2 separate regions of the Homo sapiens genome follow, and region 2 is linked to region 1. Evidence: fine-mapped expression QTL. A gene starts in region 1. The other region holds a variant in brackets. All regions are shown on one strand. Distances are from middle to middle. Region 1 holds the start of GINM1 (glycosylated integral membrane protein 1). Region 2 holds the start of LOC124901526 (small nucleolar RNA SNORA2/SNORA34 family).

Region 1 (2,761 bases):
CATGGGAAAGGCTTTGTAAGAAAACAGAGAGCCTCAACTTTACCTATTATCTTTTCATATAGACGTACTTTGTAACCTTATATTACTAATTCAAATTATACAGATCCACATGTCATGTTTTCTGACTTCCAGATTCTTTTTTTTTTTTTTGGAGACGGAGTCTCGCTCCACCGCGCAGGCTGGAGTGCAATGGCGCGATCTTGGCTCACTGCAACCTTCGCCTCCTGGGTTCAAGCGATTCTCCTGCCTCAGCCTCCCTAGTAGCTGGAATTACAGGTGCGTGCCAGTATGCCTGGATAATTTTTGTATTTTTAGTAGAGATGGGGTTTCACCATGTTGGCCAGGCTATTCTCGAACTCCTGACCTCAAGTGATCCACCCGCCTCGGCCTCCTAAAGTGTTGGGATTACAGGCGTGAGCCACTGCACCCGGCTTCTAGATTCCTTTTTTTTTTTTTTTTTTTAATAGACTCAGGCGATCCTCCTGCCTGCGTTTGCTGCATAGCTGGGAGTACAGGCACAAATGACCACGCCCATCTCCAAATTCATTTTTAATTCCAGCAGTAGGAAAAAAAGGAAAAGGCCAAGTTTGCAGATGGAACCCAGAAGTGTGTGGGGCTTCGCTGTGAAATCACTTGTAGCTTAACAATGGCGTGGGGAATCTCAGAGTAAGCCCGGAGTTAGTTGAAAGGAGTCTTTAGCCAAAACGTTTATAATTTATTCTGGGGCGGGGCCGGGGGAGGGGGCGGTGGCGGTCAGCAGGCCTGTGGGAGGAGGGTGTTCAAAGGAGTAAAGGGGGCTCAAAGAGAGAAATAGATTCTTGTTTCCTTTTTCATGTCAAAAGTTTTATTTCATGTCAAAAGTTTTATTTCAAAGGAAGACTAAATATTACTCTTATTCTGCCTGAATGGCCAAGTTTCCAAGTTTTTCTCAATCAACATGCAATCCTGTTAATCTAAAATGCTTGAATTTCTTGCTACTCTGCTTTACAGGGTTCCGTAACTTTTTTTTTTTTTTAAATCTGCAAGGTGGAAGAAAAGTCTAACACTTTCACTTTAGAGTTACGATACTGACCAAAAAGGCACTGACAGCCCAGGTGCGCTGGCTTCCTTCCAGCTGAGCGCTGTCCCCGCGCCGCCTCCAGGGGTCGGCAGAATGCTGAACAGTAAGCATGGCGCATCCTCAACCTTGGCCCCACAATGAATCACCCGAGAAAATTAAAAAACCACCAGGGCCCGAGCCGCAGCCCAGGCTGGAAAGTGGGGTGTTCAGGAAGACCCCAGTACTTTTTAAAGCTGCCCGGGAGAGTCCCACGTGCAGCCAAGGGTGGGGAATTACCCACTTAATAAAAACTTCCCCTGTAAATGCGATGTTTCATTTTTAATGTATAACAGTTTTCTGAAATATTACCGTTGTTTTCATCGTATAGGTACATGTACATGTGCACACACAGACACATGCATGTGTGTAAATACTAATTTTAAAAATAATGGTTACGAGGACATTTACATCGCTCCAGTTGGAGTCCTGTCCAATCCTGAGGGCGGGTCTAATGAGGGGCCGTACCTTCCAAGATTTCACTCCGCCCCTCGACGCCGCGCGGCGCTGCGCGTGCGCAAACGCCTTTCCCTGGCGAGCCGGATCTCGGAGCGTCCCCGCGCCTCTCCGCGGCCGCCCGGGGAGGGGAGGGCCCGTCCCGCCCCTCCCCGTCTCTCCCCGCCCCTCCCCGTCCCTCCCGCCGAAGCTCCGTCCCGCCCGCGGGCCGGCTCCGCCCTCACCTCCCGGCCGCGGCTGCCCTCTGCCCGGGTTGTCCAAGATGGAGGGCGCTCCACCGGGGTCGCTCGCCCTCCGGCTCCTGCTGTTCGTGGCGCTACCCGCCTCCGGCTGGCTGACGACGGGCGCCCCCGAGCCGCCGCCGCTGTCCGGAGCCCCACAGGTAGGGCAGGGCGGGCCTGGCTGGCCGCTTTACGACTCCGACTCTCCGGGAGGCCCGGGCTGTCCACAGTGACGCTTCCCACATCCCACCGGCGGGCAGGGGCGGGGGTCCGGGCCCCCGAAGGAGGTGTGGGGAGAAGCACCCCAGGAAATGGGGGCGGCGTGGGAGGCCGAGGTAAGAGGAAAGGGACCCACTGGGGCTGCGTCGCTGTGAGTGAGCCTCGAGCCACTCCACACCGACTCTCCGGCGGCCCAAGCCGGCGCGCGACCTGACGGGGCTTTGCCGTCGAAGCGCGCGGTTGCCGGTGATCAGGCCTTCGTAATGGCGCCTTCCCGGGGTAGAGCCAGCGCTTGGGCAAGGAATGTTTGTGTGCTCGGGAAGTGTGGAAGTTGCCCACTTCGCGCATTTCCAGGCCACTTGTGCCTGCTCGGCCTGCGATCGCGAGGGTCCGCCGTTCCGAGGCTGCGGGGCTCCGCCGGGCTCAGGTGGGCAGAGGGAGAGACCTGGCCCTCGCGCGACGTAATGTTTTTGTCGGATGTTGGAGGAGAAGTTCTCACGGCGGGGCGCGATCGGCGGTGTCCGCATCCCCTGGGGACTCAGCCCGGCCTCTGGGGGCGGGGCCCAGCAGTCCGGGTTGGAGAGTCCTGCAGGTGCTTCTGATGCCAGCTGAGGTGGGAGAATCGAGGCATCCTAACATTAAAACGTGGCTGATGCTCACCATTCCTGCCGTAGAGTCGTGCCTACCTAGGCCAGTATCAGCCTTTTTTCAGTAGAATGGTAGGGAAAAGTTTGAATATTTTAAAGAGCAAGTGTTCTGAGAATGACAA
Region 2 (3,026 bases), 28 kb after region 1:
TCAGGTAATCCACCCACCTAGACCTCCCAAAATGCTGGAATTACAGGCGTGAGCCACCATGCCCGGCCATGGTTGGTTTTTTTGAGACCACTTTATATTTAGGCCAAATAGGTATGTGTGTGATGGGGGTGGAGAGGATGACAAGTAGAATGAAGGAGTGATGTTTCACTTTGCCAGACTTTAAATTAATTACATTGCATGGAGCTCTATTATGCAATACTCTCTCCATACTGCTGAAAAAAATAATCTGCAACTTACAATTTGATCCTTGAGTTACCAACCAGTAACACTTGTTCTTTACACCCTTTCTCATTCCCTAAGTCATTAGAAAGCACCAGTTCTAACTCCAAATGATGACATGGTCTTATTTTATCTATTAACCATAAGCTTACAGATTCTAGTGAAGAAAAAACTTTAGGAGGCTACATGGTCTATTGGAGAGTGTAGGCTCTGCAGTCAGAAGATCCCTACCCAGGCTTCTGTCTTTCTCAGTAAGACTTGGGACCACAGCAAGGTCCGCAATCTCCTGAGGCTCTGTTTTCTATGGTTGGGATAACATGGTAAGTTATTTTCTTCTAAGTAGTCACACATGGAAATCTTATCTAAAATTTTATACCATTAACTTTTATTTCACTTATTAACTCATACCATTAATACTTTACTTTAGCTATGTTTGGTATGCATGAGTTAATGAGTGATTAGAGTACTATGAGCAGCACAGGTTTAGAAATGCCTATTTGCCTATAGTGCAGCCTCTTACATAGGCAAAATAAAAGTCAAGTAAGAATTTTATTTTATTTTTTTAAAATGCAAAGTAAAATGTGTCTTTAAAACTCTCCCAGGAGGTGAAGGGAAGCTACCATAACACCAGGTGGGAAGGAAGACATACTGGGCTTGGCTCATGCTTTAATTAGCTACTGTGTAAAAATGTTCAGGGATTTTCAGTTATCCGCTGGCACCCAGAGGCAATGGGTAAGGTTAACTGGAGCTAGAGCCAATATTTTTTTCTTCCTAGAAGGAGTAACAGCAGCAAACAGTAGGAGAGAAGATGCCAAGTTAGAAGTGCATATAGCTCTCTTCCACAGGAGGCCTACATGCCGCCACTTGTGCTGCCGCCATGTCTCTAGTGATCCCTGAAAAGTCCCAGCATATTTTGCCGAGTAGTCAACACCAACATTGATGGGTGGCGGAAAATGGCCTTTGCCATCACTGCCGTTAAGGGTGTGGGCCGAAGATATGCTCATGTGGTGTTGAGGAAAGCAGACACTGACCTCACCAAGAGGGCGGGAGAACTCACTGAGGATGAGGTGGAACATGTGATCACCATTATGCAGAATCCACACTAGTACAAGATGCCAGCCTGGTTCTTGAACAGACAGAAGGATGTAAAGGATGGAAAATATAGCCAGGTCCTAGCCAATGGTCTGGACAACAAGCTCTGTGAAGACCTGGAGCGACTGAAAAAGATTCGGGCCCGTAGAGGGCTGCGTCACTTCTGGGGCCTTCGTGTCCGAGGCCAGCACACCAAGACCACAGGCTGCCGTGGCCGCA[T/C]CGTGGGTGTGTCTAAGAAGAAGTAAGTCTGTAGGCCTTGTCTGTTAATAAATAGTTTATATACCAAAAAAAAAAAAAAAAAAAAGTGCATATAAAGTCAGCTTTCCTAGGCCCTGAATCAAGAAACGTGATGGTTTGCCATTGTAGCTATTGGTTTCAAACAAGAGCCAAGATTGATGTCTTTCTTATGGTCTGTTGGCTAATCCCAGTATGAATGGCCAGTTCAGCTAGAAGAAACAAACAGTCTTGAAAAAAATAGAAAAAGCAAAGAAAAAAAAGACAGCTTTCCAAGCTAAGTAACATTTGTGGTCAGTGAAATAATAATAGAAATCTAGTAATGCTAAAGTAAAACAAATTTTCAGCTTAAAAATATTGCCTTTATTCAGAATCATAAGGGTTTTTTTAAAAAAATCTTACCATTATGAAAGTTAAAAAAAATATAGCACTCAGTACAATGAATTACTGCATTTAATATTCAAACACTTAAGGCACATTTCTCACAGTTTACATGTGAGAATTTAGCATGATCCAAACTCAAATATCCATTTCTCGTATCTTTCAATGTCTGCAGCAGACACTGACTTAGAAACCTTTTTTAAAGCCATCTCGAAATCCTCCATAGTTGTAGGCATGTGCATTTCTTCTTTGGAAAGATTTCGGATTTCCTCTGGAGTCAAACCTTCAATGCGCCTTCTCATTGCCATCAAGGACGCATCCCTAGGTTTTAAGTTAAAAACAACAACAACACACACAATGTTACTTTGGTTAAATGAAAACCTGTTAATAGAAAAATTTTCAATTGATCTGTTGTAGCATTCTCTAATTATATTACATATATATGTAGTATTGTATAGAAACTTATTGGAATACAAAGCCTGTTGTGATTGATTTTTAAGCAGTTAAATCTTCTGTAATGAAAAAGGATGCTAATTTAAATAATTAATACTGAATATAAAATCCCAGAAAAAGTAAAAGTGGGGTTAAAGCTAGCAATTTGAATTTCATTATAACTATTCAATAAAATGAAGAATAAGCATCACAGAGTCAGAAGAGAAGAGAAACTGTTAACAAGAAAATTAAATATTTTCTCCATGTAGAGGAAAAGCTAGGTAAGTTCAGGGTTTCTCCTTTTCTCATTTGTGTTAAAAAAAAAAAACAAAACTTCAGATTCAAACAGCTCTTGCCTTTTACCAAGTTTTATCCTTAATAGCAGCCACCATTTATGCAAAGGGATAGCAATAGAGCTGTTTGATGTATACACTTTAGCTTTAATCCTCAGAACCCTGTGTGGTATGCTCACTTTAGAAAGGAGGAAACGAGCGCAGTCAAGCCCCTGGTTAATTAAGTGTCTCTACTAATACTTAGATTAGGACAAAACCTACTTGAACCAGCTGGATTAAAGACATTCTTTTTTTCTTTTTACTGCTATTCTGTCACATTTAGGATAAGTTCACTGAGAATGAGACTGTATTCTG

Evidence for each region. PIP is the estimated chance that this variant, and not a neighbour inherited with it, causes the effect.
Region 2: its variant is fine-mapped to the expression of GINM1 in blood mononuclear cells (TOPMed, PIP 0.98).

What each region holds. Positions count from the first base shown.
Region 1 is chr6:149,564,601-149,567,361 of GRCh38, forward strand. GINM1 (glycosylated integral membrane protein 1) reads left to right here and starts at 1,775. Exons shown (of 8, transcript NM_138785.5): 1 at 1,775-1,934. The coding sequence starts at 1,815. RefSeq lists enhancers at 942-1,071, 2,322-2,371 and a silencer at 1,502-2,051.
Region 2 is chr6:149,592,967-149,595,992 of GRCh38, forward strand. KATNA1 (katanin catalytic subunit A1) reads right to left here. Exons shown (of 11, transcript NM_007044.4): 11 at 1,907-2,268. The coding sequence ends at 2,070. LOC124901526 (small nucleolar RNA SNORA2/SNORA34 family) reads left to right here and starts at 1,659; the gene lies at 1,659-1,793. It also overlaps the pseudogene RPS18P9. The variant T/C (reference allele first, on the strand shown) is at 1,552.